Linked DNA regions of Homo sapiens: region 2 is linked to region 1. The links come from fine-mapping of genetic effects on gene expression. Tissue or cell type: whole blood. Region 1 holds a variant in brackets; the other region holds the start of a gene. All regions are shown on one strand. Distances are from middle to middle.

Region 1 (8,105 bases):
ATTTTACTCCTGCAAGGGTGCCAAGATCATTCGATGGGGTAAATACAGTCTTTCCAATAAATGATGCTGGGAAAACTGGGTTTCCACATTCAAAAGAATGAAATTGGATCTCCCCTGCCTTTTTTTTTTTTTTTTTTTTTTTGAGACAGGATCTTGTTCTATCACCCAGGCTGGAGTGCAGTGGTACAATCATGGCTCACTGCAGCCTCGGCCTCCTGGGCTCAAGAGATCCTCCTGCTTCTGCCTCCCAACTAGCTGGGACCACAGGCATATGCCACCATGCCAGGCTAATTTTTAAATTTTTTATAGAGACGAGGTCTCACTATGTTGCCCAGGCTGGTCTTGAACTCCTGGCCTCAGGCAATCCTCCCACCTCACCCTCCCAAAGTGCTGGGATTACAGGCGTGAGCCACTGTGCCCAGCCAGGACTTTTATTTTATAACATACACAAAAATTAACTCAAAATGGATCAAAGACCTAAACATAAGAGCTAAAACTGTAAAATTCTTAGCAGAAAACATAGGGAGACATCTTTATGACACTGGATCTGGCAATGATTTCTTGGATAGGACATCAAAAGCACTCACGACAAAAGGAAAAACAGAAGGATTAGGCCATCAGCGTTCAAAACTTTTGTGCATCAAAGAACAGTAGCAACAGAGTAAAAAGACAACCCAAGGAATGGAAGAAAATGTTTCCAAATCATTTCTAATAAGAGGTTAATATTCAAAATAGATAAAGAATTTCTGTAACTCAGCAAAAAAATTTTTTAATGGGCAGAGGACTTGAGTAGATATTTCTCTTTCTTCAAAGAAGATATTCAGATGGCCAATAAGCAGTTGGAAAGGTGCTTCATACCAGTTATCATTGCAGAAATGCAAATCAAAACCCTAATAAGATACCACTTCACACCCATTACGATGACTGTTACCCAAAAGAAGAAAGACAGAAAAATGTTGATAAGAATATGGAAAAATTGGAACTGAACCCATGTGAACTGTTGGTAGGTGTGCAAAATAGTGTAGCTGCTTTGGAAAACAGTATTTGTACACTCAGACAGGGATTTGTACACTCATGTTCATAGCAGCATGATTTACAATAGCTAAAATGTGGCAGCAACTCAAGTGTCCACCAACAAATGAATGGATAAATAAAATGTGATCCATCTATACAATGGAATACTATTCAGCCTTGAAAAAGGAAGGAAATTCTGACACAGGCTGCAACATGGACATTATGCATTATGCTTAAGGACATCATGCTCAGTGAAAGAAATCAGACACAAAAGGACAAATCCAGCCGGGCGCAGTGGCTCACACCTCTAATCCCAGCACTCTGGGAGGCCAAGGTGGGTGGTGGATCACCTGAGGTCAGGAGTTTGAGACCAGCCTGGCCAACATGGTGAAACCCAGCCTCTACTAAAAATATAAAATTAGCCGGGCGTGGTGGCAGGCACCTGTAATCCCAGCTACTTGGGAGGCTGCAGCAGGAGAATCACTTGAACCCAGGAGGCAGAGGTTGCAGAGAGCCAAGATCGCACCACTGCACTCCTGCCTGGGCAACAAGAGCGAGATTCTGTCTCAAAAAAAAGAAAGAAAGAAAGAAAAAAAAGGACAAATCCAGTGTGATTCCACCCCTAGGAGGTCCCTAGAGTCATCAGATCCATAGCGACAGAAAGTAGAATGGTGGGTGCCAGGGGCTGGGGAGGGGGTAGGGAGTGAGTGTTTCATGGGGACAAAGTTTCAATTTGGGAAGATGAGAATGTTCTGGAGATGGATGGAGGTGATGGTTGCACAACAGTGTGAGTGTGCTTAATGCTACTGAACTGTATATTAAACATGGTTAAAATGGTAAATTGTACATTATGCACATTTTACCACAATTAATGATAAAGAGTAATTGACTCGTCATATTTCCCAGCATTACTTTACTAGGAGGCATATGCTTTTTATGGTTTGCCTCTAGTAAGTCCCTACGCTGTCCTGCTAAAGCAGAGGATCACAGCTTTAATAAAGACCCTAAATATTTATCTTGCCTGTGGTCATGTATAGCTGAACAATGCACAGCGAACTCATTTAGTTTCCATGCGCTTAACTGGGCTAACTCTGCTTTTGAGCCTAATGGAAAGCTTGGGGCAGGTGGAGGACCGGTTCTTTAGCACTCACAGACGATTCCCACACCACACTCCCATATCCGGTCTTCTCTGCCGAGAATTCTCCCTGCCCAAGAGGTCTGGGGTGCCCTGGACACGTGTGCTCATCTCCTGTATTTGGAGATCTGGGGCTGGGAAGAGAATGTAAAGCAACCTAAACAGTAATTTAAGAATGGAGAAAATGGGACTAAATTATTCAGACACGTTTGAGTGCCTACTCGCTAGCAGGCATTTTCCGCTGCCTATAATTATGAGTAAGACATGTTCCCCCAAAGGCCATCCAAGATAGGGGTCACAGCCTGGGCAAGATGGTGAGACCCCATCTGTACAAAAAATTAAAAAATTACCCGGGCATGGTGGCACATACCTGTGGTCTCAGCTTCTGGGGAAGCTGAGCAGGAGGATCACTTGAGCTCTGGAAGTGGAGGCTGCAGTGAGCCATGTTTGCACCACTGCACTCCAGCCTGGATGACAGAGCAAGACCCGGCCTCAGAATAAATAAATAAATGAATAAAAATTAAAAAAAAAAAAAACGGGTCAGCAGACTACATCTAGCACACTACTGTGGGTTTTTATTTTTGTTTTTAGTTTCCACGAGTTGAGAATATTTTTTGCGTTTTTAAATGATTGGAAACAAGACAAAATATTTTGTGACACATGAAAATGATATGAAATTAAATTTCAGTGTCCATAAATAAAGATTTATTGGAACAGCACCAGCACCAGGGTCAGAACTAGCATGAGGCAGTGAGGCCCTCGCCTGGGATGCAAAATTTAAGGCAGTGCCTACAAAAATCCACAGTCATCAAGATACACAATGTTTTAATGCAGTATTTTAAAAAATCAAAATAAATGCCAAAAAATTTCATGATGAAGGCCGGGCACAGTGGCTCATGCCTGTAATTCTAGCACTCTAGGAAGCCAAGGCGGGTGGATCACTTGAGGCCAGGAGTTCAAGACCAGCCTGGACAACAGGGTGAAACCCCGTCTCTACAAACAATACAAAAATTAGCTGGGGGTAGTGGCACGTGCCCGTACTCCCTGAGCCCAGGGAGGTTGAGGCTGCAGCGAGCCGTGTTTGTGCCACTGCAGCCTGGGCAACAGAATGAGACCCTGTCTCAAAAAAATAATGGGAAAAAAATTCCATGATGAGCAAAATGTTGAAATTTTACATAAAGACAGGATCAGCACTGCTGCTTCTTTTTCCTCTTTGCCCCAGGCTCTAGCATGGCTCTGAAAAGCGCTGAGTGCAGCGGCCACACTCACTCCTCCTACTGTCCAGAGGCAGAGTTGAGTAGTCTCAACAGAGACCTGCAAAGCCAAAAATGTGTATTTTCTGGCCCTTATAGAAAGTTTTCCAGTGGCTAACACCTGTAATCCCAACACTTTGGGAGGCCAAAGTGGGCGGATCCCATGAGCCCTGGAGTTCAAGACCAGTCTGGGCAACATGGCAAAACCTCATCTCTACAAAAAATACAAAAACTAGCTGAGAGTGGTGGTGCACGCCTGTGGTCCTAGCTACACGGGAGGCTGTGGTGGGAGGATGGCTTGAGCCCAGGAGTTAGAGGATGAAGTGAGCTGTGATCGCGCCACTGCACTCCAGCCTGTGTGACAGAGAAAGGCTCTGTCTCAAAGAAAAAAAGAAAACTTTCCAACCCCTGATAGACATCAATTCAGGAGAGAAGGACCCTCCTCTTACTATATTAATCCCCAGCAATGACTATAACCAAACTAGATTCAACATCTGGTCCATTTCCCCTGTCTACCATTTTTTTTTTTTTTTTTTTTGAGACAGGGTCTTACTCTGTTGCCCAGGCTGGAATGCAATGGAACGATCTCAGCTCACTGCAACCTCTGCCTCCTTGGTTCAAATGATTCTCCTGCCTCAGCCTCCCTAGTAGCCTCCCTAGTAGCTGGGATTACAGGTGTGCACCACCACACCCAGATAATTTTTGTTTTTGTTTTTGTTTTATTTTGTTTTGTTTTTGAGACGGAGTCTCACTCTGTCGCCTAGGCTAGAGTGCTGGAGTGCAGTGGCATGATCTCAGCTCACTGCAAGCTCCGCCTCCAGGTTCACGCCATTCTCCTGCCTCAGCCTCCAGAGTAGCTGGGACTACAGGTGCCCACCAGTACACCCAGCTAATTTTTTGTATTTTTTAGTAGAGATGGGGTTTCACTGTGTTAACCAGGATGGTCTTGATCTCCTGACCTCATGATCTGCCCGCCTCGGCCTCCCAGAGTGCTGGGATTACAAGCGTGAGCCAAC[G/A]CGCCCGGCCAATTTTTGTATTTTTAGTAGAGACGGTGTTTCACCATGTTGACCAGGCTGGTCTTCAACTCCCGACCTCAGGTGATCCACCCTCCTCGACCTCTGAAAGTGCTGGCATTCCAGGCATGAGCCGCCGCGCCCAGCCCTCCATCTACCTTTATATGTACCTGTTTAAAAAAGTGAGTGTACACTCAAATTATTTAATTTTTGGATAATGGTACATGTAAGCCAATAGCAATTAACACTGAATTAATAAGCATGCTAATGTTTGTGTGCTGTGATGATTTACTGAGAGTATAATTACCTGCATTAAAAATGTATAGAAGCCATCATTTACTTTCATGTTAACTAAATGCTTAATTATTTAATCCTTCATGCAATGGGCTTAGTGTTACTTGGTTTGTTTATAAAATGATATGATTCCTTCCCCGGTTCCACAGACAGGTCTTAGAAGCATAATTAATTATTCTTTTTATTTGTTTAAAATAGAGACAGGGTCTTCCTTTTCGGCCTGGTTGGCCTCAATCAATCCTCTCACCTTGGCCTCCCAAAGTGCTAGGATTACAGGGGTGAGCCACCATACCCGGCCGGGAAGCAGACTTATTATGAACTTTTTTAAAGTAGTGAATGTCTTTGTCTTGGTTTTCCTGCATTCACTCTTTCTGTCTATAATCTAAGAAGAGTGCTCTTTTAAAAGATGTAAGTCAGATTATATTGTGCCTGTGGGTTGAGCCTCCTGGGGCTTCCCTTAGCAATTGGATTTTTTTTTTTTTTTTTTTTGAGATGGAGTCTTGTTCTGTTGCCCAGGCTGGTATGCAATGGCATGATTTTGACTCACTGCAACCTTCACCTCCCAGGTTCAAGTGATTCTCCTGCCTCAGCCTCCCAAGTAACTGGGACTACAGGCGTGCATCACCACACCCAGCTAATTTTTGTATTTTTAGTAGAGATGGGGTTTCACCAGGTTGGCCAGGCTGGTCTCAAACTCCTGACTTCATGATCCACCCACCTCAGCCTCCCAAAATGCTGGGATTACAAGCATAAGCCACTGAGCCCCGACAGCAATTGGAATTTTAAAACTCCAGACATCTGACCTTGTCCAGGGCCTCTGCTGCTGCAAGACCTTTGCACAGCTATTCCTCTTGCCCAGGCTGCTCTCTCCCACATCCTCCCAAGGTTGGCCCCTTCTTTGCAGCTGTCAGGTCCCAGCTCAGTGCCATCCTTAGTGCCACCCATAACTGGCTATCAAGAGGGGAGCCCTCTCCACCACCACCCCTGGCTCTATCCCTCTGCAATCACCTTGCACCACAGCCCGGATCTCTACTGAACAACCTTGTGTATCTGGAACCTTGTGTATTCTTGCCTGACAAGGATACTGGCACCCTGAGAGCAGCACTTTCATCTGACCTGCTCACCTTAGAATCCTCAGGCTGGGTGTCGTGGCTCACGTTTTAATCCCAGCATTTTGGGAGGCCAAAGTGGGAGGATTGCTTGAAGCTGAAAGTTCGAAACCAGCCTGGGCAACAAAGCAAGACCTCACCTTCTCTCTCTCTCTCTCTCTGTCTCTCTCTCACATACACACACACACACACACACACACACACACACACACATTAACCAGGCATGTGCCTGTGGTCCCAGCTACTCACAGGAGGCTGAGGCAGGAGGAATGCTTTAGCCCTGGAGTTAGAGGCTACAGTGAGTTGTGATCTTGCCACTGCACTCTCCAGCCTAGGCAACAGAGCAAGACCCATCCCTAAAAAAACAGAATCCTCAGAGCCTAGAATGGGGCTGGGCACTCAGTAGATGCACCTGGTTTTTCTTTTTTTTTTTTTAATTTATATTTTAAATCTACATACAGTCGTGTTTGCCTTTTTAGGTTTGCTGTTCTATGGTTTTTCACACTTGCATACTTTTTTTTTTTTTTTTTTGAGACAGAGTCTTGCTTTGTTGCCAGGCTGGAGTGCAATGGTGCAATCTCAGCTCACTGCAACCTCCGGCTCCCTGGTTCAAGTGATTTTCCTGCATCGGCCTCCCAAGTAGCTGGGACTACAGGCACGAGCCACCATGCCCAGCTAATTTTTGTATTTTTAGTAGAGACGGAGTTTCACCATGTTGGCCAGGATGGTCTCGATCTCCTGACCTCGTGATCCACCCACCTCAGCCTTCCAAAGTGCTAGGATTACAGGCGTGAGCCACCACACCCAGCCCACTTGCACAGATTCTTATAACCTCCATCTCAAACAGGATGGAGAGCAAGTCCAACCTCTCTCTGTAGTCAGACCCTGGCCCCATTCTTAGCCTCTGGCCACCATCTGCTGTCCCTTTCTATAGCTCTGCCTTTTCCAGAATGTCGTATAAATGGAAACATACATTGTGCAGCTTTTGAGACTGGCTACATTCACTTGGCATAAATGCCTCTGGGATTCATTCTGTCATTGCGTGTGTCAGTCGTTTGTTCCTTTTATTGCTGGAGCACAGTCCTTGTGTGATCCTACCACAGTTTGTTTGTCTGGTATATTTTCTCTTCATGATGGATGTTGAATTAACATGAAAACCTCTGGTTGTAAGAGCGACAGCATACTCTAGACCAAGTACACTAAATCGCAGTGATACTCCCTGCACAAACAGCCATTCTGTTTGGTAATTTACAGGATTACAGTTTGGTAATTTACAGGAACCTGCATGTCTTAGAATGTTTACCAATGAATTACAACTTTTAAAATGATATGCAAGTAATGGCCGGGCGCCGTGGCTCACGCCTATAATTCCAGCACTTTGGGAGGCCGAGGCAGGTGGCTCTCTTGAGGTCAGGAGTTCGAGACCAGCCTGGCCAACATGGTGAAACCCCGTCTCTACTAAAAATACAAAAATTAGCTGGGCATGGTGGCATGTGCCTGTAATCCCAGCTACTTGGGAGGCTGAGGCACTAGAATAGTTTGAACCCGGGAGGTGGAGGTTGCAGTGAGCTGAGATTGTGCACTGCACCCCAGCCTGGGAGACAGAGCAAGATTCCATCTCAAAAAATAAAATGATATGCAAGTAATACAAGTAACATTCTCCTGGGAAGGACCACCATCTACAGCAGGAGATTCAGAAATGAAAATTTCTCTTTTCGTCTTTCTGTCTATCCCACCTCATATGAGGTAAGCACTGTTAGTCATATAACTTGTGTCCTTCTAGATCTTTTTAAGGCCCCTTTACCTATTTTATAGTATGTATAGCTGGGGTTTTTTCAACATAAATTTATTCTGCAAATATTTGAGAGCCTACTGTGTGCCAGGCACTGCAGATGTTGGCTTTCTTTCTTGGAGACGGTACCTCTTCTTTTTAATGGCAGCATAGTTTTAGAGCTAGGATGCACCATAAGGTACTTAATGATTTTCCTGTTGATGAACATTTGTTTCTAAATTTTTATGACTTAAACTAATGCCACTGGGGACAGGTCGTCAATATACCTTTTTTTTTTTTTTTTTTACAGCTGTGCTGAGATCTGTTTTACATACCGTAAAGCTCACCCATTTGAAGTGTATGGTTCAGTGGGTCTTAGTATACTATCTTCACAGAACATTTTCATCACTCCGAAAAGAAGAAGAAACCCTGAACCTGCCATGAACAGCCACTTGCCCTTCCTCCTCCCAGCCCCGGGCAACTGTGAATCCACTTTCTGTCTCTGTGGATTTGCCT
Region 2 (8,105 bases), 28 kb before region 1:
TGGCTCATTTTATGGTATGTAAATGTCACCTTAATTTACAAAAATGTGCCGCACAAAAGCAGGACTCTAAGAATTTGCCACCTGTTGGCTTGTCTTTTGCTACTCTGTGCTTGTCTTTTGAGATAACTGGGGCCACAGTTTCCGCCTCTGGCCAGGGCTGGGAGCGGGAAGAGGTCTAGCTTAGCTAAACGGGTTGACCAGCAGTTCCAGGACAGGCGGTCACCTTACTCCCCGAGGCTACAACTTGAGATCGCACCACTGCACTCCAGCGTGGGCCTGGGCGATACAGCAAGACTCCAGCTCAAAAACAAACAACAACAACAACAACAAAAGACACCCTCCATTGGTTTCCCAGTCTGATCGTGACTTCTTCCCTACGGCCTCCAATAAAATGATGGCCATCATATCATCCCCTGACTCACTCACCCCACCCACTCACTGCTCTTCCCCTTTCATTGGCTCCAGCTGTGCCCAAGGACCTGCTTTCTGTTTCTTCCACATCAGCTTTCACCCCAGGGATTTCGAATTCCAAACTATTTTCCTTTGTTCCTCGTTACTCCAACGTTGCCTCAAATGTCAGCTCCTTAGAGAGACCCAGGGTGACCAACTCTTCCCGCTTTGGGGATTTCCCGGTTTTAGCACTGAAATTCCCATATCCTGGGAAACCCCTTAGTCTTGGGCCAAGCAGGATTGTTGGATATCCCAGGGAGATCATCTCTGGCTGCTCTATCTAAGGTAAGCCCCACCCACCCACTTCTCCCACCAAGCCACTACTGTATCACTTTTCCTATGGCCATGGGAATTTTATCTATTTTATTTACACCTGTGTCCCTAGCACCTAGCAAATAGTAGGCGCTATCTATCTATCTATCTATCTATCTATCTATCTACCTATCTATCTATCATCATATACTATATATATACACACATATATGTGTGTGTATATATGTGTGTGTATATATATAAATGTATATATATATATATTAGAGACAGGTTCTTGCTCTGTCTACCAAGCTGGAGTTCAGAGGCACAGTCATAGCTCACCACAGCCTAGAACTCCTGGGCTCAAGCGATCCTCCCACCTCAGCCTCCTGAGCAGCTGGGACTATAGGTGTGCACCACTGCGCCTGGCTAATTTATTTTATTTTTATAGAGATAAGGTCTCACTATGTTGCCCAGGCTGGTCTTGAACCCCTGGCCTCAGACGATCCTCCTGCTGAGTCACTGCACTTGGACCTCAATAAATATTTTTGACTAAATTAATAATTGAATGAAAGGGACTGATTACTGTAGACCACTTGAGCTTAAGAATCTGTCACATGGCCAGGCGCAGTGGCTCCTGCCTGTAATCCCAGGACTTTGGGAGGCTGAGGCGGGTGGATCACTTGAGATCAGGAGTTTGAGACCAGCCTGGCCAACACGGTGAAACCCCGTCTCTACTAAAAATACAAAAATTAGCCAGGCGTGGTGGCGCGTGCCTGTAACGCCAGCTACTCGGGAGACTGAAACAGGAGAATCACTTGAACTCGGGAGGCGGAGGTTGCAGTGAGCCGAGATCATGCCACTGCACTCCAGCCTGGGCGACAGAGACTCTGTCTCAAGAAAAAAAAAAAAATTAGAAGATGATGAAATCAATTTAGCAAATCACCGTCAACATTTTAATTAAAATGAAACAGAACAGGAAATATCAGAGTGCGTTAAAGTATCATTTCACGGTACTTTAGTTACAGTATCATTTGTTTTAGTTATAGATATGTTTGTGTGGACTGAGCCCCTAGGTAAAATGTATTTCCTGCTGTATGCTGTGGTCAAAAATGTTTGAAAACCACCCATCTAGTGATCAAGAGCATGGACTTTGGCACTAGACTACTAGGGTTCCGATCCCTCACAAGCTGTTTGACACTGGGCAAATTCACTCATTCTTTCTGGGCCTCAGCTTCCTGATCTGAAAAATGGGGAAAGGCCGGGCATGGTGGCTCATGCCTGTAATCCTAGCACTTTGAGAGTCCAAGGCGGGCGGATCACTTGAGGTCAGGAGTTCCAGGCCAGCCTGGCCAACATGGTGAAACCCCGTCTCTACTAAAAATACAAAAATTAGCTGAGCGTGGTGGCGGGCGCCTGTAGTCCCAGCTACTTGAGAGGCTGAGGCAGGAGAATCACTTGAACCCGGGAGACAGAGGTTGCAGTGAGCGAGCCAGATCGCACCACTGCACTCCAGTCTGGGTGACAGAGAGAGACTCTGTCTCAAAAAAAAAAAAAGAAAAAACAAAACAAATAAAAACGGGGATAATGCCTAGCATCTTTCTAAAGATGCGATTGTAAGATTTAATGAGTTTGCATATTTAAAAAATGCTTAGATCACTTTCAGGCACATAGCAATTTAATCAGTGCTCACTAATATGATTTCTTGTTGAATGAATGAGTGGGGCTGAAGCCTAATCTCCTGCCTTTTCTCAGTACAAGTTGTTTTCTCCTATTCTTCCAGCCCCTTGTCTCGAATAACTATATGTTTACCTCTTTATTCTGTTTGCTGTCAATGTTCCCTCACTAGAATAAAAGTTCTATGAGGATCTGTCTGTTTCTGTCCTACTCGTAGCTGAATCTACCAGCTTGAGAGGAGGGCTGGTGAGTTTGGCAAACATTTTCTGTAAAGGACCGTATAGTAAATATCTTAGGCTTCGCGTGGGACATGCCGTCTTTGCGCAACTACTCCACTCCGCCCCTGTAGTGTCAAAGCAGCCTTCCAAGCTGTTCAAGGAAATGGGCGTGGCTATGTTCCAATAAAGCTTTATTTACAAACCCAAGCAGGCAGAATTTGACCCGCAGGCCGCAGTTTGCCAATCTTTAAACTAGTTCAAAATACTGGGCCCAATACAATAAAAGAGAGTCTCCTATCAGGTTCACACCCCACAAAAGCTCCTTTTGATAGTTTCTTTTTTTTTCTTTCTTTCTTTTTTTTTTTTTTGAGACGGAGTCTCGCTCTGTCGCCCAGGCTGGAGTGCAGTGGTGCGATCTCGGCTCACTGCAAGCTCCGCCTCCCAGGTTCGCACCATTCTCCTGCCTCAGCCTCCCAAGTAGCTGGGACTACAGGCGCCTGCCACCACGCCCGGCTAATTTTTTGTATTTTTAGTAGAGACGGGGTTTCACCGTGTTAGTCAGGATGGTCTCGATCTCCTGACTCCGTGATCCACCCGCCTTAGCCTCCCAAAGTGCTGGGATTACAGGCGTGAGCCACCGCGCCCGGCCGATAGTTTCTTTTAACCATGTAAAAAATATATATATATTTAAATTTTCAGCTGGGGGTCCGTGAAAAACAGGCGGCGAGCGAGAGTTTGCTGACCCCTGATCAGACTGTTCCCACATGTCCCACACTCCTCCTGTGGGGTAAACGGAGTCCCTTGGGTCCCCTAAAACTGGACTTTCCCAAAACGCGCCACCAACCCACGGCGCCGCGCGCGCGACCGGTTCGCCAACCCTCTGAGCCGCGCGCGCCTCCCGCCAAGACCCGCCCCTCTTCGCGGCCATTGGCCGAGTCTCGCACTCTTTTTCAAGGGGGAACGCCTCCTCCTTCCGACAGACTCTGCAGACAGCCAATGGAACGCCGTAGGGTCTCGCGCCCCGCCCTCTTGGGGGCCCGTTGGAGGCGAGCGTGGGCGGGCCGTTAGGAAGGTGGGGCGCGGAGCCTGGTAACCGTTGCCGGTAACAACGCCCCGCCCCGTCGGGCGGGCGGGCTGCGCGAGGCTGGCTGGCGGCGGGAGCCGGAGGAGGAGCGGCCGCCGCCGCCACCGCCGCCGCCATAGAGACTGTAGCCGTGGAGACTGTTACTTACCAACGGGGACCAACACGCAGCAGCCGCTGCCGCCGCCGCGGGAGCCGCTGCCCGAACTCCCGGCCCGAACTCCAGGTGACCGATGCGACCGCCCCGGGCCCAGCCCGGCCGGGGAGTGTGGGGGGCGGCGGGGACCCCGTTCGGGGGCCGGGGGGCGGGCAGCACGTCCCCGCCGCTCACCCCAAACGTCCGGGTGGTGCGCCCGCGGGACCCGCCTCCGCCACCCCGTCCGCGCGCGCGGCGGAGTTTGGGGGGACCCTGGCGACGTCCCCACTTTCCTTATTGACTGAACGCGGGGGAGGTGCGGTGCCGTCGCCTCACTTTTTACAAAACTTCCTGAGGTTGGGGCGTCCGGGGACCCCTTTCTCACGCTTACCTTCAAACTCGCTGAGTTGGGGGCGCCCCGGGAACGTCTCTCAAACTCCTCAAACTCCCTGAATTGGGGGCGCTTGGGGACCCTCTTCTCACCTTAACCCCCTAGATCTCTGAGTTGGGGGCACCCAAGGACCCCTCTTTTACTCATACCCTCGAATTTTCTGAATTGGGGGCGCCAGGGGACCCTCTTCTCACGTTTACTCCCCAGATCTCTGAGTTGGGGGCACCCAGGGACCCTTCTTTTACTCAAACCCTCGAATTCTCTGAATTGGGGGCGCTTGGGGACCCTCTCCTCACTTTTACTCCCCAGATCTCTGAGATGGGGACACCCGGGGACCCCTCTTTTACTCATACCCTCAAACTCCCTGAATTGGGGCCACCTGGGGCCCTCTTCTTACTTTACTCCCCAAACCTCCGAAATTGGGGTGACCCCAGAGCCCTTCTGTCACTCTTAGTCGCAAACTTCTTGCATCGGGGGGACCTCGAAGACTCCCTTCTCATTTTTACCCCAAATTCCTAGATCTGACTTGTCCCGGGGACCCCCTTTTTAATGGACTCCCAGACATACTGAATTTGGGGGCACCCCTGGAACCTTTTTCTCATTCCTTAACTAAAAGCTGGTGCGTCTGCCCTGGGGAGAACCCCTCTTGCCCTTCTCACCTTTTCATCCCAAACTCCCCGAGCGAGCTTCCCCGGGAACTGTTTCTCACCTTTTTGCCCCAAATCCTCGCGTTCAGGTCGCCTCGGACACCCCCTCCCCTTCTCCCTGTGACCCCATATTCCTGAGTATAGGGGTTCGTGCGTCCGCCAGTCTTTCCACGTGCCCCCAAGATGCCCCTCCGCACGTCCGCAGCTCTCCTCTTAGGACTGATCTGGAAGGGAGAAAAGTTTCACCAACGCGAGTGAAACTTTTTTTTTTTTTCAATTTATTTATTTTGTTAAAGAACCTAAACTGCTCCAGGCATTTTCTCCGAGGTAGTGCGAGTGCGTGTGTGTGTTTGTGGATTTAAACTCCACCCCCTGCCCCCACCGCCCACCAGCGCGCTCGCGGGCGCACACACACACTCACACACACACACTCACTCACACCCCAAATGCTCATTTCTTTCTTTTTCCTCCCTCCGAGAAGCCTCCGCGCTCCCTCGCCACCAGCCTCCGGCTCCGTTCCTTTTGGTTTTCCTCGCTGCACCGCTGGGAAAGTTGGATTTCCCGATCCTAGTGGCTATTTCAAGGGCCCCCGAGGGCCCCAAGCGCCCGGGCCATTCTGGCGGCTGCCGGCGCGGTTCATCTTCCTATTTTAACCTCCTGGTTGTGCGGCAAGAATGGGGAGGGGAGAGGGCAAGATGGAGCTCGGGACCCAGGGCTGGCTGCCTTACCCCCGCCCCCCCAGGCTTCATTCCTACTTTGGGGTGTTGTTAGCATTGTGCCTCCCTGCAATTATTTTCCTGCTTTGTATCATAAATGACCAGCGCAGGCTTCGATGAGTTCTTTTCCCTCTCAGTCAGCTTCATCTCTGTATCAAACCTTGTACAAGCTTCATTCTCTGTTTCAACTAAGAGTTCCCCAACAAAGTAACAGTAATAATAATAATGACACAAAACAACAAAGACTTTTTAAAAAAATTTTTGCCTGTACATATTGTTGACATGTATTTTATCTTTTTACATCGTGCCCTGAAACATTGTTTGCTTATGGAAAGATCCTTACCTCCCGTCCTTCTGGATAAGGAGGAGGGGGGCATCTGTGCTTTCTCCTGCTCTAGTTTAAAGACTTGAACTGACTCTAAAATAACCTTAGAAACGACAACTCACCTACTCTGACCAGAGAAGTAAGAGTTTATGGTAACCTCCCTAGGAAAAGAATTTAAGTTCTTGAATTACTAGGGCTTCTTCATCAACAGGCGTGGTACGGAAGGCAACTTATAATGTATGATGGGAAAGATCACTGTTCTGTGATTCTGTGACAGTTCAACGGACTTGGGTTGGGAATGAGTTCTGAAATAGTTTGCTCCTGCAGGAAAAGCAATACTGAAATATTTTAGTTTTTTAAGTTCTTTCTTATAAACCACTGAATCTGAGAAGAGAGAGACAGTTATTACCTCAATAACAGGACAAGTTCTTTGAAATCACTTGATCTTTGCTTTCTGCGTGAAGGGCACGCATTACCTTAATGTATGTGTGATGTATATTTAAATACAACAATATAATATAATGTGTATGTGATGTATATTTAAATGTAAATACTCATCTTTTAACATTGTTTATCATTGAAGTACTGCTAAGGATGGTTCTGTCCACCAGAAATGCAGGTGCTGGGGAATTGTTTATCTGGGTCTTATTCCTTAGATCTAATTGTTTAGTTTTACATTAGCATTATAATTAATAAAAATATTAAATTGGCTTAACTTTAATATTATAATCGAGTCAAAATTTTAAATGCACCTGTGGATTTTTTTTTTTTTTTTTTTTTTTTTTTTGAGACAGGGTCTCACTCTGTCACCCAGACTGGAGTGCAGTGGCAAGATCTCAGCTCACCTTAACATGCACCTCCCAGGCTCAAGGGATTCACCTGTCTCAGCCTCCTGAATAGCTGGGATTACAGGCATGCACCCCCACACCCGGCTAATTTTTGTATTTTTAGTAGGGATGGGGTTTCACTATGTTGGCCAGGCTAGTCTCAAACTCTTGACCTCAAATGATCCAACCGCCTTGGCCTCCCAAAGTGCTGGGATTACAGGCGTAAGCCACCAAACCCGGCCCCTGCACCTGTGGATTTTTGTTTGTTTGTTTGTTTGTTTGAGACAGAGTCTTGCTCTGTCTCCCAGGCTGGAGTGCAGTGGCACCATCTCGGCTCACTGCAAGCTCCACCCCCGAGGTTTACACCATTCTCCTGCCTCAGCCTCCCGAATAGCTGGGACTACAGGCGCCTGCCACCACGCCCGGCTAATTTTTCGTATTTTTTAGTAGAGACGGGGTTTCACTGTGTTAGCCAGGATGGTCTCGATCTCCTGACCATGTGATCCGCCCACCTTGGCCTCCCAAAGTGCTGGGATTATAGGCGTGAGCCACCGCGCCCGGCCGGCACCTGTGGATTTTTATAGTAGCTAGTGATTGTTTTGCTCATAAAATGCTGGGGCCAGAAGGAACCACATCTTATAATATATATTTGTTTCTAAAGTTGACATCTATTTATTAAATATTTAAATATTTTTAAAATATATATTGAAATATTAAAACATGTATATATAATATATACTTATATATTTAAATATAATAAAATTTAAATATAAATATATGTTAAATATAAAACAAATATATTTAAATATTTACAAACATTTAAACAGTATACCCCCATAGGTACCCACTTACTTGTAAAATAGGAAACTTTTGAAAAACCAAGGGAAGTTCTCATCTTGCTTGTCAGGACACTCACTAAACTGCAGGGGAGGAGAATGCGAGTCTGTGGGCCTGTCTCTGAAACTATGGGTCCAGGGCATTCCCACTAAACACAGCCGTATTTCTGAACTGAACTATATGAATATTCACCCGAAGTGGGGAAGAGAAGGACCATAAGTAACTTCATGTCAATTCAGGCCAGCTTTTGTCACCAAGTGAGTCCATGCCAAATTTACAAAAAAATTGCCAGTTTTCAGAGTTTCCTGGATTTCAGTATTGTTGTAAGGGGTTGTGGGCTTATGTATTTTTTAAAAAGATGTTTTGACTCCGTCTCTAGAATTTAAATGGCAATTAGCTCCTCTGCTGGTCATGTTCTCATGTTCTCTCATGTAGACATATGCCTGGTGTAGTGAAAGGTCTTATTTTGTTGGATGGATGGATGGATGGATGGATGGATGGATGGATGGGCAGGCCGATGGAATATACACTGGGAATTAGAGAAAAAA

Evidence for each region. PIP is the estimated chance that this variant, and not a neighbour inherited with it, causes the effect.
Region 2: RFX2 starts here. The variant in region 1 is fine-mapped to the expression of RFX2 in whole blood (INTERVAL, PIP 0.94).

Annotation. Positions count from the first base shown.
Region 1 is chr19:6,078,129-6,086,233 of GRCh38, reverse strand. The region is part of intron 1 of RFX2 (regulatory factor X2); the gene reads left to right. Among named protein-coding and RNA genes, the nearest start is that of RFX2-AS1, 20 kb to the right of the region's middle. The variant G/A (reference allele first, on the strand shown) is at 4,419.
Region 2 is chr19:6,106,192-6,114,296 of GRCh38, reverse strand. RFX2 (regulatory factor X2) reads left to right here and starts at 3,797. Exons shown (of 18, transcript NM_000635.4): 1 at 3,797-3,904. RefSeq lists a silencer at 3,476-3,935 and an enhancer at 4,783-5,283.